Homo sapiens: one gene and its partners. The protein of the gene in region 2 interacts with the protein of the main gene of each other region in a pairwise test. Each region holds a gene or a part of one and is shown on either strand. Other genes may lie near its edges.

The links.
Region 1: the proteins of SCARF1 (region 2) and HSD17B13 interact in binary tests that used the Homo sapiens proteins (3 or more experiments, as listed by UniProt).
Region 3: the proteins of SCARF1 (region 2) and GPR37L1 interact in binary tests that used the Homo sapiens proteins (3 or more experiments, as listed by UniProt).
Region 4: the proteins of SCARF1 (region 2) and KCNJ6 interact in binary tests that used the Homo sapiens proteins (3 or more experiments, as listed by UniProt).

What each region holds. Positions count from the first base shown.
Region 1 is NC_000004.12:87,312,569-87,320,245, forward strand, and holds part of HSD17B13 (17-beta-hydroxysteroid dehydrogenase 13 isoform A precursor), read right to left. Parts: intron 5,869-7,677; coding exon 5,761-5,868; intron 4,656-5,760; coding exon 4,524-4,655; intron 3,032-4,523; coding exon 2,925-3,031; intron 1,393-2,924; coding exon 1,255-1,392; intron 1-1,254. UniProt on the Homo sapiens protein: Plays a pivotal role in hepatic lipid metabolism. In vitro, it catalyzes the oxidation of a variety of lipid substrates, including 17beta-estradiol, retinol, retinal, and leukotriene B4.
Region 2 is NC_000017.11:1,635,359-1,643,035, forward strand, and holds part of SCARF1 (scavenger receptor class F member 1 isoform 1 precursor), read right to left. Parts: intron 5,309-7,677; coding exon 5,090-5,308; intron 4,683-5,089; coding exon 4,554-4,682; intron 4,385-4,553; coding exon 4,281-4,384; intron 3,569-4,280; coding exon 3,448-3,568; intron 1,705-3,447; coding exon 1,583-1,704; intron 1,498-1,582; coding exon 1,351-1,497; intron 260-1,350; coding exon 1-259. UniProt on the Homo sapiens protein: Mediates the binding and degradation of acetylated low density lipoprotein (Ac-LDL). Mediates heterophilic interactions, suggesting a function as adhesion protein. Plays a role in the regulation of neurite-like outgrowth.
Region 3 is NC_000001.11:202,125,240-202,132,916, reverse strand, and holds part of GPR37L1 (G-protein coupled receptor 37-like 1 precursor), read right to left. Parts: intron 7,376-7,677; exon of another isoform or gene 7,199-7,375; intron 5,177-7,198; coding exon 4,361-5,176; 3' UTR 1-4,360. UniProt on the Homo sapiens protein: G-protein coupled receptor. Has been shown to bind the neuroprotective and glioprotective factor prosaposin (PSAP), leading to endocytosis followed by an ERK phosphorylation cascade. However, other studies have shown that prosaposin does not increase activity.
Region 4 is NC_000021.9:37,606,696-37,612,957, forward strand, and holds the end of KCNJ6 (G protein-activated inward rectifier potassium channel 2), read right to left. Parts: 3' UTR 678-6,262; downstream 1-677. UniProt on the Homo sapiens protein: Inward rectifier potassium channels are characterized by a greater tendency to allow potassium to flow into the cell rather than out of it.

The DNA of each region.
Region 1 (7,677 bases), on a different chromosome or scaffold from region 2:
GCCCAGGCTGGAGTGCAGTGGCGCGATCTCGGCTCACTGCAAGCTCCGCCTCCCGGGTTCACGCCATTCTCCTGCCTCAGCCTCCCGCGCAGCTGGGACTACAGGCGCCCGCCACCACGCCCGGCTAATTTTTTTGTGTTTTTTAGTAGAGACGGGGTTTCACTGTGTTAGCCAGGATGACCTTTAATTCTTTAAAAACTTATTTTTTTGGCCGGGCATGGTGGCTCACTCCTGTAATCCCAGCATTTTAGGAGGCCAAGGCAGGTAGGACACCTGAGGTCAGGAGTTTGAGACCAGCCTGGCCAACATGGTGAAACCCCGTCTCTACTAAAAATACAAAAATTAGCCAGGCGTGGTGGTGGGCGCCTGTAATCCAAATACTCAGGAGGCTGAGGAAGGAGAATTGCTTGAACCCAGAAAGGCGGAGGTTGCGGTGAGCTGAGATCGCGCCACTGTACTCCAGCCTGGGTGACAGAGTGAGACTCTGTCTCAAAAAAAACAAAAATAAAAACAAAAACTTTTTTTTTTCTTTAGTCAACAGTACCTATGGTCTAACACCATGAAGGACTCCAGTGGCAGGGAGTGATTCCAGCTGCAGAGACCACATAGCTAACTCAGGCTGTAAGAGTCAGTATCCTCAAATGAGGCGGCACTCAACAGAGAATTGTTTAGTTCTTTTGAATGAATATATTTAGGATTAATTCCCTTCCAGTAAAAAATTGGTTTCGAATCATTAAGCTTAGTATATTTTGTTAACCTGCAGCAGAATATATACTAGGATTAGAAAAATTTGTTAAGCAGATGGCTTAATTTTCGGGTTCTTATCCACACCTTCCTGCTTTTTTCTTCTCCTTTCAGGACTAATTTTTCTTCTCTTGTGGTCTCAAATCCTGTCTCACCAGAGACAAGAGTTCTTGCAGAAATTCACCTTGACTAAGGAGCTAGATACTCAATTTATTTGCTGGTCCTTGGAACATTTGCATTTTAAAGACAGGGTGGTAACGGTGATCAAATGTATGTGCTTTCTCCCGGACACAAATAAATATCCCAGTTCATCGGTGGCTGATCATTCCTGCTAGTCCCTAATGTGTTTTCCCCCTTTATTCCTTTAATTTCAAGATAATAATAATAATAAGAAAAATTATTTTTCCTTCTTCATTTTCTTCTATTAGTTGGCCTGCCTAAACATTTCTCATTAGTTTTCATATCAATTTATCATACCACATACCCATTCTAACTTGATTTTGACCTTACCTTGTGCTTGGATTTTTGGTGAACCCAGTATTCACAAAAACTGGGCAGAGACATGAGGTTTTGATACCAGTTTTTCCCAAGGCCTGAAGTTCTGATGTCAGACCTCTGTGAAAGCCAACAGCGGCAAATTTGCTGGAACTGTAAGAGAATTATTAAGCATTGTTAGCTAAGGGAGAGTGAAACCAATCCTCAGCTTTCTGTGAGAAGGCGGTATCATTTGGCTTAAGAACAAGTGGAAGCCAAAAATCAGCCACTTGTGATTTTTCTGAGAGTATAAATGGCAATTCATTTTCATTTTCTTACATGATTAAGCAGAATTGTGAACGTATCTCATTTCTTAAACAACAATGATAACAAAAGAACAAAAATAACTCTATTGATTGGCTTAATGTTCAGTTTTCCATCCTACATGTAAGGTTTTTCCATTGAATCTTCAAACTGTTTTCTAATCAGTTTTTATTGCTGCTTTTATTTTGAAAAATATGAATCAGGAAAAATACATTTAGAAATTCTACAAAACTGGTATCTGTGTTGACAGACTTCTGTAGGACTCTGCTCATTTCTCCTCTCTCTCTCAATAACTGAGTTATTCTCTTGACAATGGTTGATAGTTTTTCTCTTGACAATGGTTGCCACTTTGGCCTCTTAATTTTATTATGAGGATCTGGAGAAGAGTTTACAGGAAAGGATATTTGGCAAATACAGCAGTACATCCTTAACGCCTCTCACCTCCTTCCCTTTATGTCTTTGGTGGTGCATGGAGTGTGGTATCTGCAACTTTTAGTCAGGTAGAGTCGTTTTCTCTCTCTCTCTCTCTCTCACACACACACACACACACACACACACACTTTCATGGCACAAGCACACTGTAAAATGTTTTGATCCAGGGACCACTCTGATTGTCTTATCTTGGGCACCAAGGCCATGACATAGACATGTGTTCATTTTAGCTTCTGTAGGTTTTGCTTCTCAGTCTGTGGGGTTTCTGTTTCTTATTCCAGGAAACAATGGAAACATGCTTGGCATTACTGTTTTCTCTCATTGTTCTACAGAGGAGTTTGCAGAAATCTAAAAATATCTTAAATATAATTACAACCTGGTTTCATTGTTTTAGAAAAAGTCATTTAAAAAATCATTCTAAACTACTATAAATTTAAATTCTGTAAATCCAAATCACTCTGCTCTCAGCATTGTAATCTTGAGGCAGGAGAACAGGGTCTGGAGGCAGGGAACATAAGGCCGATTCATGCTGACTTCCTAGAACTAAATCAAATGGAAACACTCCAGCTATGACAGGAAATATCCTCTCCATTTACATATGGTGTACACTGAGTAAACGACTCTGTAACTTTAATTCATCCTCTTCATTTACATAGGGCGTACACCAAGTAACCAGTGGAAACCTCTAGGGGGTATTTAAACCCCAGAAAATTCTGTAATTGGCTCTTGAGCCCCTGTGCTTGGGCCCACTCCCACCCTGTAAAGCGTACTTTCATTTTCAATAAATCTCTGCTTTTGTTGCTTCATTCTTTCCTGGCTTTGTTGGTGAGTTTTGTCCAATTCTTTGTTCAAGATGCCAAGAACCAGGACTCTCCAGTGGTAACAATTTGAAGTGTAATGCTCCCTTCAAAGTATAAAAATATATAACATGGCTGGCATGTGATACTTACCAATATGGGATGAGGTAAGGAATCCCTTCGTGGCCGCACACTGAAGCCACTGTGACGATGTGGCCATGATTTCTCTCCATCATCGATGGAAGAAGTGCTTTTGTGATCTTAAGGATCATTGCAGAAAGAAGAAAGACAATGACATAGACGTTAGGTTTCCAAATCAGGTAGTTTTATTTTTGTTAAGACAGAAAGGCATTTGAGAGAACTTATACAATGAAATAAAATACTTCCAAGCATTCCATGATTAATTCTTTACAAATGATAGAAATAAAGATACAAATTTATTGGTATGGTAAGCCCCATGCCAACACTAATCTCAGTACTCCCCCTCCTTCCCTTCAGAAGGAATCAAATAGATCCTTTTTTGGATATGTCATCTAAACAATATTAAGGGAAAAATTCAGAGTTTTCAGAACTAAAATTATTCCTTATGATAATTTGGTGTCATATAATTTTTTGGTTTGGGGCTTTATCATTCTAATTAAAAGAGTGAAATCTTGTGTAACTGTATTAAGACAGTTGAGTAGTGTAAGCTGAGAGTTCTACACCACACTAATGAATCATGATTGAATTCACTATCTCCCTATTTGTAATATTGTATATTATATGTTGATGTTACAGAAAACAAGTCTTTCTTTTTTTCCAAAAACCTCTTTTGTGAGAAACATCAATAAAATTTTATAAGAATTTAATAAATCCTATGCAAATTCATAGAACTAGAACTCCCAACCCAAGCTACCTCCAAATTCCCAACCCATAGAAACTGTGAGAGGATAGTGAACATACATTGTTGCTTTAAACCACTAAGTTTTGTATAATTTGTTATGCAGCTATAGGTAGCTAATGTATGAGGTCTCCGTGTAGTTTGGTGGGCATGGGAGCCAATTCACATATGTGAAGAGCTGGTAAAGGTAAGGGGGACACATCTCTTTTTTTTCTTCTTTCTTCTAGAATCCAGATCTGCCCTAGATTCTACACTAATATTGAGGCACTGGAAGATTAATCATAAAAATTTCTATACAAAGGCAGTTGAAGTTGATATTTCCATCTCCCACAAAACTAACCAATTATATGAGGTCTGTATAGCTGCATTTCTCAGTTCCAGCACCCCATGGATCTAGAACACTTGCCTCAGAGTCTCGTCCAAAAGTGTCCTCGATCCTATATACATCCAAGTAATTACTTCTGATGTCCTTTCCATTCTAAAATTCCACAAAATGAGGACACATTACAAAATCATGGTGTGGAGGGAAAAAAATGAAGTCACAAGTGACAGCATTGAAAAGATGTACACTGACAACCCTTAACAAACCTCCACAAACATTTGTTGAGCTCCTGGTACATGCCAAGCTTTGTGTCAGATACTGGTGGACAAGACAGACCAAGTAGCTTACATTCTGGTGTGTTGTGTCCACTTGAATTCTGTGTCCTTGTGTCAGAGACTCTGTGGCTCTTCTACTCAAACAAATTTAATGATTCTTGATTAAGGCAAAGATCTGGCCAGTTTCCTGTCCAGAAGTATGTGAACTCCGTTATAAGTTTCATGTATCTTAAGAGAAGGTGCACAAATCAGAAATGTTTCTGACTCACACTCACCCAAAAATGTCCTAGGATGTTGACCTCAAATGTCTTGGTAATCTCTTCATCCTTGGTGCTGAGAAGATCGGCTGGATATACTGTCCCAGCATTATTCACCACGATTGTTACATCACCCACTTCTTTCTTCACCTTTTGAAATTGAAAGAACACTTTCACTGGGTGTATTATTCAAACTCAAAGTTTTGGGACCAATATAATCCAAAGATGAGAGTCTTTCTTCTATTGTATGAGGTCTCTCAGAGTTCAGGCAAGACAGACTGTTGAGCTCAAATCGTGGAGGCCAAGGGAACACTGTCATAAAGGTGGGATAAACTGTTCTTTTAACATCTAAATTTCAGTACCCAGCACATCATGTTTTGCAAGTTTATCAGTAAAGTGAAATTAACATTTATGTTGATAAATTCCTATATAAATTCTGACCAAATATTTTTAAAGTGTTCATTTTTTAAAAATGTGTTTTTCTTTAAACTTTTTTTTTTTTTTTTTTTTTTTTTTTTAGAGATAGGGTCTCACTATGTTGCCTGGGCTGGTCTTGAACTCTTGGTCTCATGTGATCCTTCCACCTTGGCCTCACAAAGTGCTGGGATTACATGTGTGAACCACCGCACCTGGTCTAAAGTGCTGGTTGAGAAATCCTGGTTTCATAACCTAATAACTACATGACCTGGGTCTGGCTTAACCTCTCTGAGTCATAATTTGCTTATCTGTAAAATGAAGTTTACAGAGTTATTGTAGGGATTGAATTAAAAAATGTAAAGTTTGTTAGAGTGCTTAGTTCATTGTGATTATTTGGTATTTACTCTTTTAAAATAATTGTGATAATAATTATTAATATTACATTTTCTACAGAAGACTACATTAACACCAAAATAAAATCTCACAAGGGAAATAATTAAAGAGAAGCTGGAATTACTGCAAAGTTAATAGGACTAAAACAAAACTAGGAAGTGATCCATATTCCCTGATGATAAATCTTTTGTCAGTCACTCTGTGCCACTGCTCACACTTCTGATCAGAATGAAATTGATTAATAATATGAACAATAATAATGGGCAGAGCTGAGTGGATTACATACAAGAAAAAAAGTATATATCCTTCCTTGGTGACATAACTACTTCAGTTAGCAGCTAAAATCCAATTTAAATCAGGCAGTCATAAAGACCTTTCTCATTTTCCACGTCAGCGTCCTAGGAAACAAAATAATCTGAAGAAATTTGTGAACCTGCAGTCTCACCTGATTTAGAGAGCGATAGATCTCTTCTCTGTTGCTGCAGTCTACCACATACGCATGCGCAGTGACGCCTAGTTTTCGGCACTCAGCTGCAGTTTCCTCCACACCGCGCTGTAATTAGGAAGAAACAAATTCCGAAAAAAGTGGAGGAGAAGACATTGGAGAAGAAAAATTTTTAGACAATTAACATTCGGCTAGGCGCGGTGGCTCACGCCTGTAATCCCAGCACTTTGGTTGGCCGAGGAGGGCGGATCACGAGGTCAGGAGTTCAAGACCAGCCTGGCCAACATGGTGAAACCCCGTCTCTACTAAAAATACAAAAATTAGCCAGGCCTGATGGTGTGGGCCTGTAATCCCAGCTACTTGGGAGGCTGAGGCAGGATAATTGCTTGAACCTGGGAGGAGGAAGTTGCAGTGAGTGGAGATAGTGCCACTGGACTCCAGCCTGGGCAACAGAGTGAGACTCTGTCTCAAAAAAAAAAAAAAAAAAAATTAACATTCATGTCCAAAATGAACAATTAACATTCATTTTGGACATGAAGATTAGTTAACCTTTTAAAAATTGGCCTCCTGGGTCAGGTGTGGTGGCTCACGCCTGTAATCCCAGCACTTTAGGAGGCCGAGGAGGGTGGATCACTTGAGGTCAGGAGTTTGAGACCAGTCTGGCCAAAATGGTGAAACCCCATCTCTACTAAAAATACAAAAAATTAGCTGGGCGTGGTGGTGGGAGCCTGTAATCCCAGCTACTCGGGAAGTTTAGACAGGAGAATCACTTGAACCCGGGAGGCGGAGGTTGCAGTGAGCTGAAATCATTCCATTGCACTCCAACCTGGGTGACAGAGTGGGACTTCGTCTCAAAATAAAATAAAAATTGGCCTCCTTATTTGTTAGAAAATTTCTTGAGAGTGATTGCCTAGTTGCAATGAGATTACCCCTGGCTTTTCTGCCAGGGAATGCTCATATTAAAACCAAAACAAACAAAACAAAACAAAATCCCTTCATGCTTTTTTCAGCTTTTCCTCTTGGTTGGAGGCTGTACAGTAGGCAGTTTCTCTAAAGCAGGCTACTTTCAAACCTTGAAGAACATTCTTGAAAAACATTGCTCTTCGTGGTGTCATGGAAGATGAATATGGAGAAGAAAGAAAAACTCAACCATTAATTTATCATACATTTGTTGAGCACCAACTATGTAATAGGCAGTAAAGTGCTAAGTAGTAATTCTAAACTAGTGGTAATGGTAAACTGTATGCCTCTGCCCATCATATTTTTCTTGATGATTCTGACTCATCCTCCTAGGAGGGAAGGGAAAGAAGTCTCCTTAAAGAAGAAGGACTTTCATAGGGAGACCATGCTGCTACTCTAGGAGATATAACATTACATTCTTCAGGTGTTTGGGAGTGAGATGGGCAAGGCCACTGGATGGATTTCTCATTTATGTACCAAACTTGCCCATAACCATAGGACATGGAGACAGAGCAATTTACTTTCAGCCTAAATTCAAAGACCTCTTTCCTAAGATAAAATTGCTCTAATGTTTCTTGACTCACATTCTGGAAAATTATAATTCTTTTCAAGTTTTCACCTCAGGTGACTTTTATAGAAAATATTATAAGGTTTTAAAAATTATACTTTTCCGTCTCACAATCTGTAAACTCTTCTCTGTGACAAAGAGGCAAGGATACCTGAAAAGCCCTATTCTTCGTGTATTGAGATGACAGTGGTGTTGCTGCTATTTAGGGCAAACCTTGAATGAGTGGTCTCTGGGTCCTTTGTATTTCGCTACTGTAGGCTAAACCCTGGAGCAGCAGCCTGAACTCCCCAAACATGGATGTTAGGACCCAGTCTCAAAGTCAGTATCCCCTCAAATAGCCTTTTGTGGGATTGCAGAAGAGTAAAAAAAGAATAGGAGAGTCTTTCACT
Region 2 (7,677 bases):
TCCCGGCCCTCAGGACCCGACTGCGCCCCCCGGGAGAGCCTCTTGGGCTTTCGGAGCGGGCTGGAGAGCTCCCCTGAGCTTCGGCGACTCTGTGGTGCAAACTTGGTACCTTCCGCGAAGGAGACCGATGGCCGCTTGGCCCGAGCTAGGCTGGAGGTGCGCGGGATGGCGAATGGCGTGGAGGCGTCCTCAGGGGGCGGGAAAGCACCTGCAGCCAGGCTGGCCTCTGACGACCCTGCCTGGGCCACAGGGACCATCCCTGGCAGAGGAGACAGAAGAGCTTGGCTGGAGCTGAACTGGCCACCCCAATGCATCCTACCCACAGCTCAGCATCTTCCAGGAGGCCTCAAAAATAGGGCAAGGAAGAGGGCAAGGATGAGGAGAGTGGCAGAAGGACCAATTCAGGTAGACACTGTTACTTCTACACTTTTTTTTTTTTTAATTGTAGAGATGGGGTCTCACTATGTTGGCCAGGCTGGTATCAAACCCCTGGCCTCAAGCAGTCCTCCCGCCTCAGCCTCCCAAAGTGCTGGGATCACAGGTGTGAGTCACCACACCTGGTCTCTATACTCTTTTCTCACCACCTCTCCCTACTTTGAAATACTGTCACACTCTTACCAAGCTAAAACTCTTTCGATGGCACACAGCCACATCCCTCTCACCTCTGGGCCTTTGTGTATGCTGTTCCATCTTCCTGAAACACCATTCCCTCCTCTCCCTGACTTTCACTTGGCCAACTCCTACTGATTCTGCTAGACTCGACTGGGATGCCACACACATCGTCCCTGACCCCAGTCACCCCAACATGGCTAGCAAATGAGTCCCTACTTGTATGTCCCCCATGGAAACACATATCACTGTGTCCTGTCATTGTCTGATGACTGCCCATCTGACTCTAAGCCTGGTGAGGATAGGAATCTGTCTTGTTATCTCTTGCATGCCCGGAGCCAAGAACAGTGACTAACACAAAATGGGCCCTTAATAACTGTTTGCTGGCCAGGCGCAGTGGCTCATGCCTGTAATCCCAGCACTCTGGGAGGCTGAGGCGGGTGGATCACGATCCTGGCTAACACGGTGAAACCCGGTCTCTACTAAAATATAAAAATTAGCCGTGTGTGGTGGTGCACGCCTGTAATCCCAGCTATTTGGGAGGCTGAGGCAGGGGAATCACTTGAACCCGGGAGGCAGAGGTTGCAGTGAGCTGAGATCGCACCACTGCACTCCAGCCTGGCGACAGAGCAAGACCCAGTCTCAAAAAAAAATAAAAATAAATAACTTTGCTGGAGGACTAAAGAGGGGGTCGTGGTGGGCAGGGCTGCTCAGGGGCTATGTGGGCTGTTGGGGGGCTACCTTCTTGGGGTGGCACACAGTAGGCAGGAACCTCATCTGCCTCTCCAGACTCAGGATCGGATGAGAAGGAGTCATCAGTGGCCCAGCCGGCAGAGGGCGGCTCGATGAAGCTGTGGTTGAAGGGGACCTCCGGGTCGTGATGTGAGACTGTAGAGACTCCAGATCAGGCGCCTGCAGGACCTGATGCAAAGCCCTGTCCAATCCCAGACCCCGGCCCCCAGCGCCCACTGACCTGTCACCCAGGGTAGCTTGTGGGAGCTGAGGGAACGGCAGGGCAGCGTGGAGCCCAAGCTGGTCAGTGTCCCCCAGACCTGCAGCTTCATCCTGGACACGGTAGCTCCATCTCTCGCTGGCCTGAGGGAGGAGGGTAGGGACACTGGTCAGTACATGAGACCCACGGTGACCTGGGTCACCTTGGCAGGGTGTGACAGGGTGACTGCCTCTACTTCAGTGGCTTCAGTGGCTCTCTATTGACTACAGAATAAAATCCAAATGATTGAGCCCACAATTCAGGCCTGCCACAGAACAAAGAGTGGCTCTAGAGTCAGACAGCCGAGTAACAACTCTGGTTCACACTTCACCTCCCTAGGCCTCAGTTTCCGCATCTGTAAAACAGATCCTATCTATCTATCTATCTATCTATCTATCTATCTATCTATCTATATCTATCCATCTATCTATCATCTATCTGAGCTTTTTGCAGGACCTGGCAGGTCTTTGTTATTATCATCCTAGCTGAGCCTCAGCTCACGTTTCTCTCTCTCTCTCTCTCTCTATTTTTGGGACAGAGTCTCGCTTTTGTTGCCCAGGCTGGAGTGCAGTGGTACGATCTTGGCTCACCGCAACCTTCGCCTCCTGGATTCAAGTGATTCTCCTGCCTCAGCCTCCTGAGTAGCTGGGATTACAGGCGTGCACCACCACACCCGGCTAATTTTGTATTTTTAGTAGAGACGGGGTTTCACCATGTTGGCCAGGCTGGTCTTGAACTCCTGACCTCAGGTGATCCACTCACCTTGGCCTCCCAAAGTGCTGGGATTACAGGCGTGAGTCACTGCGCCCGGCGCACCTGTCTCAAATGACACCCCCTCCAGGAAGCCTTCCCTTGTTCCCACTCTGCTCTACCCCCACATGTGGAGGAGACTGCTCTGCTCTTCACTGTTCCTCCAACAGCCTTTGCACCTGTCCTCGTGTCCCTGCGAGGGGCTTCTTCCCACCCTGGGCTCTATGCCCTGGGCCAGGGGCAACTGTATCTGCTCCTCTGTGAATGCCGCACAAGCACAGAGGAGGATGTGCTATTGGACTAGGGCAGGAACTAGTAAGAGAGCACCAGACAAAGAGTCCAAAAAGGTGGAGAGGGGCTTCCTGTGTGCCAGTACCAACTAGATCACCTTGGGCCTCAATGTCCTCTGGGAATTGAGGACATTTATCCTCCCGGCCCCACACTCCCTGTTCCAAACCTCCACGCTGCTGTGAGTCTCAAAGGAGCCTGGAATGTGACGAGGTTTCATAAAGGAACAAAGCTCTGCGTAAGCCCCCTGCGCGGGCCCCACCAGCCCAACCCTTCCTCCCCTCTCCGTCTCTCAGGCAGCTACACTCTCTGCTAAACCACTGCACAGACATTGATGTCTCTTTCCTTCGTGGGCCATCTGAGGCCTGGTCTCTTTCCCTCCTGGCCCAGAGCCGGGCTGCTCCTTCCGTGGTCCCAGCCCTCCTCCTCTGGTCCCCGCCGGTGTCAGCTTTCTGCCTCCCGCTGCAGGCTCCGGTTCGCCAGCCTGGTGCCCATGCAACTCAGAAACTTCCTCATTGAAGGCTTCCGAGGAGGGCAGGCAGCTGACCCGGTGTCTCCAGTGTCTCCAGGCCACGGGCACTGCCAACTACCTCCATCACCTCTGACCTACGTGGGCGACAAGGCCAGCCCTCCCCACCCCCATCACCTCTGACCCACGGGGGCGACAAGGCCAGCCCTCCCCACCCCCATCACCTCTGACCCACGTGGGCAACAAGGCCAGCCCTCCCCACCCCACAAGGAAACCAGATGCCCCCCTGCTCCCACCCTGTGGCCTGAGCTGTGTGGGGAAGGGACGGGCTGGCGTTCACCTGTCCTTGAGGTCTGATCGGGGGGCCCAGCAGCAGCAGGCACAGCAGGCAAGGCCCAGGAAGAGCAGCAGCAGAGGCACAAGGCTGCCCGCGATGAGGGCAGTGTCCCGACTGCCAGAGCCTGGGGGAGCCAGAAACGGGGGATATTCAGGCCTTCCTGTCTCCTACACATCCTGTCTTTGCTCTGAGTTGCCTGCTACCCAGAAGCTTCTTCCTGGGGGTCACTCCCTGCCTCCGGGCAGCCCCTCTGCTGGCGTGTCCCCTCCACAGGTTCTTGCCCCTGAGGCCATGTCAGTGTCCAGCCACCCCGCTGCCCATTTCACGGCTCTAGCCTGGTTTCGCAGGGGCGGGGGCTCTGTCACATCTTCAGGGGGCCCCAGAGCATCCACACAGAGCTCAGGTATAAAGAATGTCTCTGGGCCGGGCACAGTGGCTCACGTCTGTAATCCCAGCACTTTGGGAGGCCGAGGTGGGCAGATCACCTGAGGTCAGGAGCTTGAGACCAGCCTGGCCAACATGGTGAAACCCTGTCTCTACTAAAATATAAAAATTAGCCAGGCATGGAGGCGTGCGCCTGTAATCCCAGCTACTCGAGAGGCTGAGATGGGAGAATGGCTTGAACCTGGGAGGTGGAGGTTGCAGTGAGCTGACATCACACCACTGCACTCTGGCCTGGGTGACAGAGCAAGACCTCGTCTTAAGGGAAAAAAAAAAAAAAAAAAGAATATCTCTGAAGTGGGCCCAGACTCCCTGGTGAGGAACTTGCCCTGGAGCCCATGTGAAGGGCCCGCCTTTCCCTGGCTACTGCACCCCGCAGCCTTCTTCCACCTTACCTGGCTGGCAGGACCCAGAGACAGGGTGGCAGAGTCCCTCTGGGCATTCACAAGGAACTGAGCAGTTGTTTCCATGGAAACCGGCTGGGCAGGAGGCGTTGCAGCTATGGAGTGACATGGAGAGGCAGGCTGAGGGCTGGGTGAAGTGGGGGAGGCAGGCAGGAGACGGGCAGGGAGATTTCTGGGCACTGTCCAGGGAAGTTCAGGAAATGCTGCACAGAGCCCTGACCTAGGCCCCTGGCACTCTCCCGCCCCCGGGATCCCCATCCTTACCTGGGCCCCCAGTAGCCGGCACTGCAGACACAGTCCCCTGTCACAGTATCACAGGACCCCTGAACACAGGTGGGGCAGGTAGAGCCACAGTCTTCCCCAAAGGTACCAGTGGGGCAGGGGTCTTCACACCTGGGGTGAGGCAAGACTCGGGGAAGGGGAGACCAAGGCAGGCCTGGCCCCCACTGTGGGGCCCCACCCCTCCGCCCCACGCTCCTGGACTCAAGGACCCAACTGGCCACTCCTCAGCAGTGAAGCTCAGGTGCAAATAGGGCCTTGAACTTGGGGCCAAATCCAGCAGGTGACAGACTACAAGTCCCCAGAGGGCGAGGAGGGCAGGAAGCCTCAGAGGGGAGGGAGCTGGGATCCTGCCCAGGCCCCCCCAGAACCCACTGCTCTCCCCCAGTCTTCAACAGGAGGGAGGCCCCTGGGGCCGCATGAACCTGTGTGTCGGGGAGGGTGGTGCTCTCGGAGAGAGCCGCTGAGCTGAGGGTCCTGGGGGAAGGTGTACCCCACCCTGAACAGAATGGTGCCCTCACCTGGGCCCCAGCCAGCCAGGGTCACAGCGCTGACAGTGGCCAGTATCTGGCTCACAGGCCTCCCCATGTCGGCAGTGAGGGCACTGCTGTTCGCAGCTCTCGCCAAAGGTGCCAGGCAGGCAGGGCTGCTGGCACTGGGTCCCGTTCCAGCCCGGCTCGCAGGACTCACAGCTGCCTGTGTCTGGAGAGCACGGCTCATTGTGTTTGCAGCGGCCACAGCTGGGAAGAGAAGGGCTTCGTGGGAACAGTGGGGGTGGATGGATGGAGCGCCCACCCCCTCCTACCCCTGTACTCCACGCAGGCCTTCGGGGGCCCTGGAGAGTGTTCGGGTCCCACCTGGGTCAGGCAGGTTTGAGCCTCAGTTTCCCCACGTTGTACAATGAGGACAAATGAGGGCTCTTACAGGATCCCATCCCTTTCCTTCCAGGCATCTGCTCTGTGACCGTCTTTCCCTGGGTCCCAGGACCATCAGGAGCCAGCAGCCCAGCCAGGGCAGGCGAGTCACCACCAAGCTCTGAGTCCCATTTGCGAGGTCTGCCAGGCCTTCCCTCCTGCTCTTTTCACTTTTCCTTTTTCCACACTGAGCCGTCCCCAGGTCTGGCATGAATGGGACTCAGTAGTGTCTTCTACCCCATCACACGAAATGCAAAAAATGTAAAGTGTTTTCACCCAGGGGTCCTCAAACCCTGGGCCATGGACTGGTACTAGTCCGTGGCATGTTAGGAACTGGGCGACAGCGTAGAGATGACCAGCAGGGGAGCCTGACCGCCTGAGCTCCGCTGCCAGCCAGATCAGTGGTGGCCTCAGATTCTCATAGGAGCGCCAGTCCTATTGTGAACTGCGCACGGGAGGGTCCAGGTTCCATGCTCTTTACGAGGATCTAATGCCTGATGATCTGTCACTGTCTCCCATCACCCCCAGATGGGACCCTCGAGCTGCGGGAAAGCAAGCTCAGGGCTCCCACTGATTCTATATTATGGTGAGTCATATTATTATTTCATTATAGATTACAGTGTAATAATAGAAAAATTGTCTGCCATGAAACCAGTCCCTGGTGCCAAAAGGTTGGAGACCACTGTTGTCACCAATATAATTTCACATTTGCCATATCTTAATTTCCCATTGATGCCTAATAGTTACCTGAAGTTTCTCCCTCAGATGCTTAACTAGCTGGGATCATATACTTGGGTCAGACCCATTAGTAGGGGAGAAGAAGGGCAGTTTATAAAAGCCATTTAGCTGATCCTGACCAGCATTTTTATTTCTTATTTTATTTTATTATTATTTTCTTCAAGACTGAGTCTCACTCTGTCGCCCAGGCTGGCGTGCAGTGGCGCGATCTTGGCTCACTGCAACCTCCGCCTCCCGGGTTCAAGTGATTCTCCTGCCTCAGCCTCCCAAGTAGCTGGGATTACAGGCGCCCAACACCATGCCCGGCTAATTTTTGTATTTTTAGTAGAGACGAGGTTTCACCATGTTAGCCAGGCTGGTCTCGAACTCCTGACCTCAGGTGATCCGCCCGCCTCGGCCTCTCAAAGTGCTGGGATTACAGGCGTGAGCCACCGCGCCCAGCCAGGGATGAAATTTCTTACTGTGAGTGCAGCCAGTCAAAGTTTGAAAGCCACTGAGCCCTAAAGGGACCTTGCTCAGGACCCTTGGTCACTCGATCCACTTATTTATTATTTTTTTTGTAAGAAACCATTTTTTTAATTTTCTTTTTTTAAATATATTTATATATATTTTTTTATTATTATACTTTAAGTTTTAGGGTACATGTGCACATTGTGCAGGTTAGTTACATACGTATACATGTGCCATGTTGGTGTGCTGCACCCACTAGCTCGTCATCTAGCATTAAGTATATCTGCCAATGCTATCCCTCCCCCCTCCCCCCACCCCACAACAGTCCCCAGAGTGTGATATTCCCCTTCCTGTGTCCATGTGATTCCATTGTTCAACTCCCACCTATGAGTGAGAATATGCGGTGTTTGGTTTTTTGTTCTCGCGATAGTTTACTGAGAATGATGATTTCCAATTTCTTCCATGTCCCTACAAAGGACATGAACTCATCATTTTTTATGGCTGCATAGTATTCCATGGTGTATATGTGCCACATTTTCTTAACCCAGTCTATCATTGTTGGACTCGATCCACTTATTACCTACATATGGCTTGCTAGCAGTGCTAGTATATTTTGCACAGCAGTAATCAATGAAATGAGCAGGTGAGGCTGGACCTGGGGCAACAAAGCGTTTTTAAAAGTTTTTGTTTTGTTTTGTTTGAGACGGAGTCTTGCTCTCTGGCCCAGGCTGGAGTGCAGTGGTGCGACCTCGGCTCACTGCAACCTCCGCCTCCAGGGCTCAAGCGATTCTCCTGTCTCAGCCTACCGAATACCTGGGACTACAGGCGCAGCCCGGCTAATTTTTGTGTTTTTAGTAGAGACGAGGTTTCAGCATGTTGGCCAGGATGGTCTCGAACTCCTGACCTCAGGTGATGCACCCGCCTCAGCCTCCCAAAGTGCTGGGATTACAGGTGTGAGCCACCCCACCTATCCGACTTTTCCCCTTTCTCGTTCCTCTGCTTTGTAT
Region 3 (7,677 bases), on a different chromosome or scaffold from region 2:
GTAGGGCTGGGCCCACAGAGCCTGGGGGAGTGTCACCGCCTTTGCTGCCTCTCAGTTAGTGTCAATGCTATGGGTTTCCTGGTAGGAGCCCTGCCCTCGCTCCTCTGCTGGATTCTAGTCCCCCACCCGACCTCACCGTCAGAGCTGGTCCTCCCTCGGCACTGCTCACAGCTGCTGCCTCAGAGCCTGGTGACCCTGCCTGCTCAAATCCGAGGCCATCTTGACCCAGTTTCACAGTAAGCCCCACCTCCTCCCGCTCCACCTCCCTCGGCCTCTCCTTCACCCTGGAAAATGGAGCAGGCCCTTGCAGAACACCCCAGCCCTTCTCACCCCTCCCACTGCAGGAAAAAGGAGCCAAACTGTCCCTTAGTCCTGGGAGTGGGGACCTTGACTCCCCGTCCTGGGCCCTCCAGCCCCTCACCTTCATTGGTGCCCAGGGCTTCCTCCTGGAGGCAGTCATCAGACCTGTCAGAGCAGTTCCCTGCCTGGAGAGGCAGTTCCCCACTGCCAGAGAGTTGGAGGAAAGAATGTGGATGGAATTTGGCATCTGAAGCTAAGTGATTCTAGGGTACCTCCCAACTCCTAAGCAAAATGGGACATGTCCTCCTGGCTAAGGAGGTTGAATGGGAGCCAGGGCTCTATCCCCTGCCCTCTCCTGACTGCAAGCATGGCTAGGTTTTCCTGGGCCTGGGATCCCGGGAGAGGACCAGCAATCTCACTCATCTGGGGCTGTTTCCAGGCCAAGGTGCCTTTCTCAGATCCTGTGATCCTCACTGAGGATTGAGGTTTGAGATAAGAGAGCTGGTTACCAGGAAGCAAGCAAGCATCCTCCTTCCACAGTGCCGGCGTGCAGCAGGTGCTAATATGACTTAAAGAATTTGTTCAGGGGCCAGGTGCTCATGCCTGTAATCCCAGTACTTTGGGAGCCCGAGGTAGGAGAATGACTTGAGTCTGGGAGTTTGAGACCAGCCTGGGCAAAATAGTGAGACCCTATCTCTACAAATAATCAAAAATTAGACAGGCGTGGTAGTGCGCACCTGTAGTCCCAGCTACTCAGGAAGCTGAGGCAGGAGAATCGCTTGAGCCCAGGAAGTGGAGGCTGCAATGAGCTGTGATCACACCACAGCACTCAGCTTGAGTGACTGAGTGGGATCTTGTCTCAAAAAAAAAAAAGTGTTCAGCCAGGCATGGTGGTACACACTTGTAGTCCCAGCTACTCAGGAGGCTGAGACAGGAGGACTGCTTGAGCCCAGGAGTTCAAAGCCAGCCTGGGCAACATAGTGAGACCCCCCCACCCAGCTCTTAAGAAAAAAAAAACACACATAACCTATTAAAGTTGAATGGGAACAGACCATGAGTATAGGTAAATTGTCATGTTTGGGGCCCTTTGATGCCAAAACCTGGATGCATTTAAGAATCCCTGGGCCAAGCCTGCTCCTAACACTAGAGAATTGAATTCCCAAAGGAGAGGAAGGAATAAAAGGTTCGGGGCACCATGCAAAGTGCTTTATGTATCTTGTCTCATTAAATGACCATAATCCTCTGTGAAGGACAGATTATTCCCATTTTACAGATGAGGAAGCTGAGACTGAGTTTAAGTAATTGCATTCAGTTCCAGGATAGGTGATGAGAAGGTGACTCCCAAGTGGAGCAGGGAGACCCAGTGGATTTCAGGCTCCCCTCAGCCCTGTAACCTGGCATCAGGATCTGAGGGCTGGTCTGAAGTCTGCCCTCGGGTGAGCGTGTCAGTGCCCCCTCAGACCATCCCAGCTCAAGTCCACTGCCCACCATGTGCCAACCCCCCCGCAAGCCTGGGACCCCTAAGCAACAAACCCTACATTGTTCCCCCAGCTGGCCCAGGCTGCGAGGACAGTGGCTCTTTCCCAAGGCCGCTGGCCTGCTGACTGATTCTGCAAGCCATTCACGTTGGCAGGCTTGGGAGGTGGCGGTGGCAGAGCCTTGGAGCCACCATCTCTCCCCCTTCATCTCTGAGCCGGCCAACCAGCAGGAGGGAGAGGTGGAGGGCACCCTTTGTGGAGGAGGACCCCTAAACAGGATGTTGAGGGGTCTGACTCCCCTGCCCTGGACTTCACCTCAGTTCACCCGGCCCCTTCCTGCATCCCTTAGGAAGCTGGTGGTACTTCCGGGCCTGGCAGGGGGGTGGAGAAGGAGTTGGGGAAATGCCGAGGAAACGGTCCCCAAGAGCTTCAGCACGACAGGCCTGCCTTTGGTCCCCTCTCCAACCTGCTCCCCCACCCATCTGAAGTTTCTACAGACAGAGCTGGGGGCTTCAGTCACCGTGGCAACAGGTCTGCTGAGAAACGGGTGGGTGTCACTCCCCAGCACAAAGGGTGTGTGCATGGCGGCGCCATCACCTAGCAACGGCCTCCCTCTCTCTTGGCGGCATCACCCGCCCTGGGGGTGGGTGCCAGGGAGAGAGAACAAGGCCGTTAAGATCCCCAGGAGAGGGGGAGGGAAGCTTGGGTACAGGGCAGGCTGAGGCCAAGGGGTGTGGGTGGGTGGACAGAGGAGAATGGAGCCCCAGGCGCTTGGAAACCCTGCCCCTGCCCATCCCTGGGCCCCCGGGGCCCTTCCTGAGGCCCCATGTGGATGCTGTAGGTAGGCCTGGTGGGCAGAAGTCTGGTGGGACCCAGGACAGAGCTTCAGACAGGGGGGGTGGTTCTGAGGAAAGCTGAGCTCCCAGGCGGGGAGCGACTGGTGGCCTGGCTGAGGCATCACTTCTGGTTGATGCTGTGCCAGCTTCCCAGGGACCTACAAGGCTAAGGGTGCCCTCTGGAAGGGACCAGAGGTGGGGCTGGGGGAAGTGGCACTTCAAGGGCAAGACCCCACAGGAGAAGCTGCATGAAGGGTCTGCCGGGGGCAGTGGGAGCTCTGGCGGGAAGGGTGGTGCAGTGGGGGCTGGGTGGGGGCAGGCCAGGGCAGGCAGCTGGGCCGTCTACAGGCAAAACAGTCCATTCTAAGAAACTGAACAAGAGCAGCTCTCAGAGTGACAAAGGCTGGGAAGCCCTGGGGCTCACAGAGGAAAGACCACTGGACTCCCTCCAAGGGGGGCTTTGTGGAGAGAGGGCATAGCAGAGATGAAGGCTCCAGAGGAGATATTTTCCAGGCTTTTGACTTCCCAAGGAGCATGGGGTTTAGGCCAGGATGAGGACTTAGGTCCTCCGGCTCCCCAAGCCCTCCATCCTCTCTGTCCCTCAAAAGCCATAAAACCCTTGGAGTCGCCAGGGCCACAAGGCTGTTCTGAACATCGGCCACAAGGCTGTTCTGAACATCAGCCACAGGCCAGGCCAGGTCAGGAGAAATTCTCCTAGGCACTGCCAGGCCAGGAAGGCCCAGCTGCATCTGGGCCCTGCCAGAATGTGGCACAAGAAAGTGGATGGGCATAGGGGTAGTTCTACCTAGTTTATTGTTTCTCAAGAAGGGCCTCCTATGGGAAAGCACCTAACAAGGAGGTTGGGACAGGGCAACCCAGGGATCCCAAAGAAAGGAGGAGGAAGGAGAGAGAAATCCTCTGGAAGAAAAGAAGGCACCAGTAGGAGGAGGCATCCAGGACTGGGACAGATCTGGTCCAGAGAAGAGTGTACTGGGGCTGGGCGTGGCAGCTCACACCTGTAATCCCAGCACTTTGGGAGGCCAAGGCAGGCAGATCACTTGAGGTCAGGAGTTCAACACCAGCCTGGCCAACATGGTGAAACCCCGCCTCTTCTACAAATACAAAAATTAGCCGGGTGTGTTGGTGCACACCTGTAATCCCAGCTACTCAGGAGGCTGAGGCAGGAGAATCGCTTGAACCCAGGAGGCGGAGGTTGCAGGGAGCTGACATCAGGCAAATGTACTCCAGCCTGGGCAACAGAGCAAGACTCCATCTCAAAAAAAAAAAAAAAAAAAAAGAAGAGTGTGGTGAGCCACACTGGGCTGGCCCCAAGGAGCCCCCATTCCAAGATGGGGCCCCAGGTTGGTGGTAGGAGGATGATGCCTGGGAAGGGCACAACTAAAGTATGGTCAGGTTCCAAGGCAGAGAGAGAGAAGAGAGACTGGAACCAAGGGAGGGCAGGCAAAGTTCTGGCTCCCAGCTGCTGGGACTCAGAGTTTCTGGGCAGTTCTAAGGACCTAGAAGCATCACCGCCCACCAGTGGAAAGGACAGGGTTGGAAGGCCCCACAAGGGACAGGAAAGGCCCTGTGTGGGGAGGGGGCTTTGACATTCCCAAACCTTGACAAGAGGAACCAAGTCCATCCCTAGACAGCAAGACAGGCAACAAAGCAAGACCTATGGGGAAAGAACAGCAGACACCGGCGGGGGTGGCGGCCTCTCCCTCCCTCCCCACCCCTACTGGGGCCTCAGCAAGGTGTGCCCAGGGGCAGGAGTGGGGGTGACTCCCTGGGCTTGTGGAAGTAGATGGAAGAGGACACCTCGGTCTTGAGCTTGTTGTCCGACCCATTGGCAGCAGAGGCCTCCGAAGCCCCGCCGCACTCCTCACAGCAGCAGCAGCAGCAGCAGTCCAGGAAGGCCTGGCCCAGCGGCCTGCAGATGCAAAGGAGCAGCACTGGGGTGATGGCGCCCTTGAAGAAGGTGGAGAACTGGTTGATGAGGCCCAGGAGGTCCAGGGTCTGGCGGGTCAGCTCGGTGGAGAGGTAGGCCACCACGATGTTGCAGACGTTCTCTGGGAGGGTGCAGAAGGCGTAGACCACGGTCAGGCCCACCACGGTGCTGTTGAGCTGGCTCTCACACTGCTCGTGCTTGCTGGCCCTGCACTCTGACTTCCTCCCTGGAGGGCCTCGCACCCGCCATGTCACCAGCTGGCAGGTGACTGTGAAGAGGATGGGCAGGCAGAAGTAGCAGCCAAAGTACCACCACATGCGGGCGTTCTGGTAGGTCATCACCAGTGAATACAGGGACTCGGGCAGGCTGGCTGAGGGTTTCATGATGCATGAGTCCAGGGTGCCCATGGTGGGGGCAGGCTCCTGTGCCAGCTGCCACAGCAGGAGCTCAGGCACAGCCAGCGTCATGGAGCCCACCCAGATGACAGCCAACTTGGCCAGGATGGATTGGCACCGCTCGATGGGCCTCACCTTGGGCAGGGTGCTGGTGGCCACGTGGAAGCGGTCAATGCCCAGGGCACAGAGGCTGAAAGTCGTGACTCCCAGAGAGGAGACCTGTGGGCAGGATGTGAGGGAAGAGAGAAGCACTTGGTCAAAATCTATGGGGACAAGGAAGGACACCTGGCTTCTGGCTCAGTTAGACCATGAATTGAGTGATAAGCATAGAAATTATAATAATGGGCCGGGTGCGGTGACTCACACCTGTAATCCCAGCACTTTGAGAGGCCGAGGCAGGCAGATCACTTGAGCCCAGGAGTTCAAGGCCAGCCTGGGCAACATGATGGAACCCTGTCTCTACTAAAAATACAAAAAAATAGCCTGTCGTGGTGAGGCACGCCTGTGGTCCCAACTACTCGGGAAACTTAGGTAGGAGGATGGCTTGAGCCTAGGAGGCTGAGGCTGCAGTGAGCCAAGATCACGACACTGCACTCCAGCCTGGGTGACAGAGCAAAACCCTGTGGAAACAAGGAAGGAAGGAAGGAAGGAAAGAAGGAAGGAAGGAAGGAAGGAAGGAAAGAAGGAAGGAATTATAATAATGGTAACAACTCCATTTAATGAGCATTTCCTATGGGTCGGGCACTTTACGTGTCATCACATTCCCAATCAACCACCTTACCATTGAAAAAGCTCAAGCTCAGGCAGGAACAGTGAATTGCCCAGGACCACACTGCTGATGAATGGCGGAGCTGAGGTTTACACACATGTCTGCCTCCTTCCCCCTTGTTCTTTGCCTCTCAGGCTGGGGGATGAATGGCCTGGCTCCCATAGACCCTGATGCTCTCTGACAGACTTTGGAAAATCATCTCCAAGGAAGAACCAAGATAAAGACATAGAAGTTCTGGATCTTTGCAGGTCCTTCCACTTCCCACACCCCATTATCTGCATGCCTGGGATGAATGGTCTTGGGGAACATGGCTTACGCGTGCACACACACACACACACACACACACACACACGCACGTTTCTGCTCCTGGCCCTGTCCGGAGAAGCCCAGGACCTGGCTGTGTGGGGAAGTGGCCCCCCTCTGAGCAGCCAGTGCCCACCATGCCCGCACTCTATTCATCAAGCGCGTGGAAAACCACCCTGTGAGCCAAGAGGAAGCAGCCCGAGCGGCAGGGGAGGAGAGTGCCAAAGAGCAGGAAGGAAGAGGGGACCCTCCCGCACCATCAGACGCTGCTCAGCCACACTCAGGGATTGTGCTCAGATCCCCCTCCTGTCCAAATTCTTCCCTCTTCTGGCTGGGGGAACACAATCCCCAGCTTTTAGCACAGCCACCAAGTGTTCTTTGTGGAAACCCCAACCCCCTCTCTTGGCAGGGGAGCCCAGGCCTGCAGAGGCACAGGCTTCAGGCTTGGGTAGAAACGCCATTCTCTCTCCTTTTTTTTTTTTCCGAGAGTCTCACTCTGTCGCCCAGGCTGGAGTGCAGTGGCGCAATCACAGCTCACTGCAACCTCCACCTCCCGGGTTCAAGTGATTCTCCTGCCTCAGCCTCCCGAGTAGCTGGGATTATAGGTGTGCGCCACCACACCCAGCTAATTTTTGTACTTTTAGTAGAGATGGGGTTTCACCATGTTGGCCAGGATGGTCTCGATCTCCTGACCTCGTGATCCGCCCACCTCGGCCTCCCAAAGTGCTGGGATTACAGGGGTGAGCCACCGTGCCCGGCCCTGCCCTTCTATTTTACATCTCAAAAATATCTCAAGTTTTATTCCAAGCTGCCCTCTCCTGCTCCCTCCTCAGGACCATCCTGAGATCCTCCCTATAAAAGGGTGTTGCTGGGCGCGGTGGATCACGCCTGCAATCCCAGTACTTTGGGAGACCAAGGCAGGCAGATTGCTTGAGCTCAGGGGTTGGAGATCAGCCTGGGCAATATGATGAAACCCTGTCTCTACCAAAAATACAAAAATTAGCCGGGCGTGGTACCACACGCCTGCGGTACCAGCTACTTGGGAGGCTGAGGTGGGAGGATTGTTTGAACCTGGGAGGCGGAGGTTGCAATGAGCTGAGATTACACCACGGCATTCCACTCTGGGTGACAGAATGAGACTCCGTCTCAAATAAAGAAGAAGGGTGTTGTGGGTGACAGAGTGAGACTCTGTCTCAAAAAAAGAAAGAGTGTTTTCTCCCTCCACCTGTCCCACCACCCAGCCTAGAAGGAAGACTGTCTACCAGCCTGTGGATCATCTCTATCCTCCAGGAGGTGTGGAGGGGCTGGCCCAGGAGGACATTACATATGTCAGGACCCACAGTCAGGTAGGGCCAGGTGTTCATTGACCTACCAGCCACATGCAAACAAGAGGTCGTATGTGTCTGCCCTTTTCCCCTTCTCCTCTATACCATTTTAATTCTAAGCACTGTATAGACATCACCCATTTAATCCCTTAAGAATTCACCCAGATAGCTATTATTATTATTATCCCCAATTTACCAATGAGGAAATTGAGATTTAGGTAGTTAAAGTAATCTACCAAATCACACAGCTAGTGATGGGAAAAGCCCAGTTTCTAATCTAGTCTGCTCAATTTCAGAGTCCTGTGTCTAAGCATGCACAGCTC
Region 4 (6,262 bases), on a different chromosome or scaffold from region 2:
TCCTGCACGCCTCGGTAGAGAGGGACAGCTGGCTAAGCCACCAGCCCGAGATTCCCTGGTGGGGAGGAGTTAGAGCCGAGCCGAGGCACTGGAGTTTGGCAAAGCCAACCCATGCAAAATGGACCACTGAGAACACGAAAAACTCTCACGGAATGTTTCTTTAGTCCAACATGGAACTTTATCATGAATGATCAAACTCCTTTTATTAAGACTCTTAGAGCTGTGACAAGGGGCAGGATCAACTGCTCTGCAAGTCCCTAATTCCCTTTCGTTTTTTTCAAGTTCCATGAAGTGCAAGGTACAAACAGGTATCAAAGGAGTCCCACTTGGGTCAGTAGGTGTGGAAAGGAGCGGAGCTGACCCATTGCTGGGATCTGGCCATAGGCAGAACATTGTGGGAGAGATGGGGAAAGAGACAGGAGGGGGAGAGCGAGAAGGAGGAAAGGGAGCAAGAGAGTTAGGGAGAGAAAGAAAGAGATGGAGAGAGAGGAAGAGTGGGAGGGAAGAAGAGAGAAGATCACTCCAAACCCATGGTACTATCCTTGGGTTATGCCTGATATGCCTGACATCTTGAGTGGCCCTGGGGCAGGGTGTTGCGCTTTGAAACAATTCATGCTCTCACTTGTAGAAAAGGCCGACTTCTTTGGACACAGACACACATAAAAAAGAAACCAAGGCCATATCAAATTTTTCTTTTATTGTTCCAGTCAAAAAAAGAGGAACACCTCAATATGTAAACAGTTTCCCTAACACAGCGAGTTCTTAAAGATATATATATATATATATATTTTTTTTTTATTTTAAAAAAATTTGGCATTGTAGTGATTTCTCAATACATAATTTGTGCTTTCGCATTGAGCATGCTTTCGTCTCATTGTCCGTGCACAGACATACTTGGAGTTGAGTAAAGGGAGTTACAAAAGGACCAAAAAATGGGACAGGAGCCAAACCAGTACTTGAGCCCTACCTGGTGTTCCTTCCTAAAAAGCATGGTGGAAAAGTTGGCAAGATTGACCTCAGAAGCAAATCTTAGTGACTTTATTCCAAAGAAATCTTAGAAGCCTTGGTAGCAACTTTTGAAAGAAGCATTTCTTGTTTTCTTTCTGTTCATCCCTAAAGGATCATTGGTTTTGCTTGGAGAAAACTTTAGTTATTTTGTATGTTATATTTCTTAATATCCCTAAGTCCCTTCTAAAATAAACTCTTGTTTTGTGATTTTGCTGGACACATGATGGTTTACAACTACATGCTATTGAAATTCCACTAGTGATTTATTCTGCTTTTTGCTGAATCATTTCAAAGTGCTTGACAGTTGTGTAAAGACCTTTTGGTTTTGTCCAGTGAAAATTATTTTTTAATTCAATACTAAAGACTTCAGAGCCTTTAAGATGCAATGATGGGTTTATCAATAATACTGTTCATGCTATTCGTTTCTTAGTCCTTGTCCTTAGCCTGAAATTCTAAGTCTCTATAAATTAGCACCAGTTTTCCAAATGCATATTTTATCAAATCCTATGATCCTAGGCTGGTCTAGGTACCATCCCCCAATCTTACCTTGTGTGTTTCTGTTTTAAGACCCTCTCCCATGCTGGCCTTGCAAACTGAAATGCCTTTGCTTTTGGATCTCTCTCTCTCTTTTTAAAATAGAGATGGGGTCTTGCTGTGTTGCACAGGCTAATCTTGAATTCCTGGGCTCAAGCAATCCTCCCACCTTGGCCTCTCAAAGTGCTGGAATTACAGGCATGAACCATTGTGCTTGCCTGCCCTTGGATCTCTGTCTCCAAAACCTAAGCAGTCTTTGAGAAATGTCAGGGCAAATGTCCCTTTCTTCCTCATGAGGCCATTTCTTACTGCTTACGCAGAAACTGATCTACTTTCTTTACATTCCAGCAAATTTGTTGTGCCTGTCCCTCTTCGTTTAGGTATTTCTAAAACTAGACTCAGTTACTTCACGTGTGAAGTGGGAAGCAGTATTTTCTCACAGGGTTTTGTGTGGTTCGATGCACTTAGCGCAGTGTTGTTGCATGGTAAGGGCTGGCAGCCATGGGATTACAGGCTTGTTGAGGACAGTGGGGGATGTTACTTTTTCTCAGAGTCTTCATAGTAACTTGTCAAGGACATCACTCACTGTACTGCAAGTGTTCACTGAGTGCTCATGGCCAGCACTCAGGCAAGTGAATACACATTTGGAGTAATAAAATATGGGGCATCAGCTAACTTTCAGAATATTTTGAGTGGAGTTTTGTCCTTGTCTAGTTTTAGTTGCCTGTTGGGATCCCTGAGTATAAAAATACAAGTGTGTGCCTGCTCCCAGCATTGACGAGCTTCATGAACCTTGAAAATGGAACACTTTATTTCTCTGTAGGATGTGAGCATTTGATAAAGAACTCAAGTTCCTGAAAAAATTTCTGGAGACAAAGTTGAGGATCAAGTATCATCTGTGCTTCATTTCTTTTGGGAAGATGTGCGTTCTCTAGGTGTGGATATTGGAGTTGGCACACTGACATGCACCCTAATGACCCTCAGCTTGGGGACCCAATTCTGACACCTGCTGGGCTTTGCTTTCTTTGCTTAACTAGTTCTTGAAAATTCTGTGTGATGGTGAGAATAAGAAGTTCCAGGTACATAGAAACATGAATGTCCACAAACATGCAACCCCCAAACTAGATGCAGTCTTATCTTCAATCGCATAGATTCAAAATTAAAGAGACTATTGAAACCTTGGCACTGCTAGAGACTTTTGAACTAATAGCTTTCTGGAATAATTTTCTATCCTAAGAAATAGCTCACAGAACAACCCTATATTTTACTGGGCCATAGTAAACATTTTGGGCCTTAATATAATGCCATTTTATTAGGAAAGACAAATACAATGAATTATCTTATGATTAATAATGAAAAGTGGCCACTATTTTCCATTACTGGTATATAACTAAAATAAAGCAGTAGTGCTACGGTTAAAATAAATCAGCTTAATTAAAATATTATGGTTTAAGCTTTTTGCCTCCTTAATTATCCTGTCTGGTTTAGTTTTTGTTTTGTTTTTCTGACTGGGGCCCTAGGTGCATGCTTTAGGGAGGGTAGAGCTGGATTTGGGTTAAAAGCAAATTGTCAGTAGCCTGCTGGAGCTGAAGGAATTGCTCATGGATGAGCTGGCGAGATGCAGCCTCACATTTATTTTCTATCAATGATGCTGACCTTCCTTGGACATTTTTCTACTGCAGAGAAGACCACAGTGCATGTCCAGTAGCACCTCATTTATCTAGAAGGCACCTACCTCACAGCTCATCTCTCTGCTACCGGGTTTAGTGGTGGTAATGACAGGGGAGCAGGACGTGGTCGGTGGGTGCTGTTGGAGACAAGTGTGTGGCTGGTAGTTAATTTCCCTGCTGCCAGCAAGGGAATCAGTTAAATGATGAAAACAGCTGAGACTTAAAGCTGAACCATCTGGGGTCATTTAGTGTAGAGGTACAGTCTAGAACTGATGGTGGTGTAGGTTGGAATGGATACTAGAATTATTAAAGCAGAGACTATGGGGTTCAAATGTTTGTTGAAAAAGATGAGGAAACTACAGCAGATTAGTCTTTTTGCTTAAGCTTGCATGGAATGTTCATCAAGTTAGACTGCATTCTGGGTCATAAAACATACCTTAACACATTTAAAAGAATAGAAATTCTCAGATCACTTGGGATCAGGAGTTCAAGACCAGCCTGGCCAACATGCTGAAACCCCATCTCTATTAAAAATACAAAAATTAGCCAGGTTTGGTGGTGGGCACCTGTAGTCCCAACTACTTGGGAGGCTGAGGCAGGAGAATCGCTTGAACCCCGGAGGCAGAGGTTGCAGTGAGCCAAGATCATGCCACTCTACTCCAGCCTGGGCAACAGAGTGAGACTCTGTCTTAAAAAAAAAAAAAAAAAAAAAAGGAATACAAGTCCTACAATGTTTGCTCTTAGATAACAATGGAATTAAGCTAGAAATCAGTAACAGAAAGGTAGCTGGAAAATGCCAAAATACTTGGAGATTAAACAACACACGTGTAAATATCATGGGTCAAAGAAGAAATCTCAAGATAAGTGAAAAAATATTTTGAAATAAATGAAAATAAAAACATAGCTTATTATAATTTGTGGGATGCAATAAAAACAATGCTTAAAGGGAAATTTATAACATTGAATGCAGATAGCACAAAAGAAGATCTGAAATCAATCATTTAAGTTTCCATTTTAAAAAAGTAGAAAAAAAGAGCAAATTAAACCCAAAGTAAGCCAATGAGAAGAAATAATTAAAATTAGATTAAAAATTCACGAAATTGAAAATAGGAAATCAATAAAATAAATAGAAACAAAGTTGATTCTTTGAAAAGATCAATAAGCTCCATAAGTCTCAAGGCATGCTAACTAAGAAAAAAAGAGAAAGAACACAAATTACTACTATCAGAAATGAGAGCGGGGACGTTACTAGCAATCCCATGGAGGTTAAAAGGATAATAAAAGATAATGAAGGAATTTTATGAATGACTTTATACCCACAAATTTGATAATGTAGATGAAATGAACCAATTCCTTGAAAAATAGAATTTGTCAAAACTCACACAAGAGCAAATAGACAATCTGAATAGGTATATCTCTGTTAAATAATTTGAATCAATGGTTAGTAACCTCCCCAACCAGAAAGCACTTGGCCCAGATGGGTTCACTGGTGAATTCTACCAAAGACTTAAGGAAGAAATGATACTGATTATCTACAATCTCTTTCAAAAGCTAGAAGCAGAGAGAACACTTGCTAACTCATTCTATGAATCCAGCATCACCTTAATACCAAAACCAGACAAAGACATTACAAGAAAACTACAGACCAATACCTGTCATAAGCATAGATGCAGAAATCCTCAACAAAATATTAGCAAATCAAGTCCAACAATATATGAAAATAATTAAACACCATGACCAGGTGGAATTTGTCCTAGGTATATAAGGCTGGTTCAACATTCAAAGATCAACTAATGTAATGAATATCAACAGGCAAAAGAAGAAAAATTGCATGATCATATCAACAGATGCAGAAAAATCCAAACAGTCTTTCATGATAAAAACACTCAGTAAAGCAGGAATAGAGGAGAAGCCCCTCAACCTGATAAACAATATCTAAAAAAAAAACCTTACAGCTAACATCATACTAAATGGCGTGATGGTGAGAAACCTGAAGCTGTCTCACTAAGATCAGGAAAAAAAAGGTGTCCCCATCACTACTGCTTTTCAACATGATACTGGAAGTCCTGGCTGATGCAATAAGACAAGGAAAGGAAATAAAAATATATAGATTGGGAAGAAAGAAGAAATAAAACTTTGTCTTTGTTTACAGATGACATGATCATCTATGTAGAAAATCTGAAATAACTGACCAAAAAACAAAACAAAAACAAGCCCCAGAACCTTCCTGGAACTAATAAGGGATTATAGCAAGATTTTAGGATTCAAAGTTAATATACAAAGTCAATTGTTTTCCTATATACCGGCAATGAATAAGTGAAATTTGAAATTAAAAGCACATGATTATTTAAATTAGTATCCCTTGAAATGAAGTACTTAAGGTATAAATCTAACAATATGTATAAGATCTACATGAGGAAAACTACAAAACTGGTGAATGATATCAAAGAAGAACTAAGTAAATACAGAGATATTCCATTTCATGGAGGGACTCAATATTGTCAAGATGTCACTTCCCAGCTTCCTCTGTAGATTAAATACAATCCCAATAAAAATCTCAGCAAGTTATTTTGTTGGTACCAAAAAACTGAGTCTGCAGTTTATATGGAGAAAGAAAGCTACAGTACTCAAGACGATGTGGTGTTGGTGAAGGAATAGACAAATAGATCAGTGGAACAGAATGGAGAGCTGAGAAACAGACCCACACAAATATAGTTAACTGATCCTTGGCAAAGGAGCACAGGCAAAACAGTGCGGCAAAGAGGGTCTTTTCAACAAACGGTGTTGAAATAGCTGCACATTTGCACATCCACAGGCAAAAAAAAAAAAAAAAAAAAGAGTCTAAATACAGACCTAACAAACACTTTTCACAAAAATTAACTCAAAATCGGTCACAGATCTAATGTAAAATGCAAAACTATACAACTCCTAGAAGGTAACATATAAGAGAAAACTTAGATGACCTTGGATATGGCAATAGATTTTTAGATAGAACACCAAAGACATGATCATGAAAGAAGTAAATGATAAGCTGAACTTCAGTAAAATTA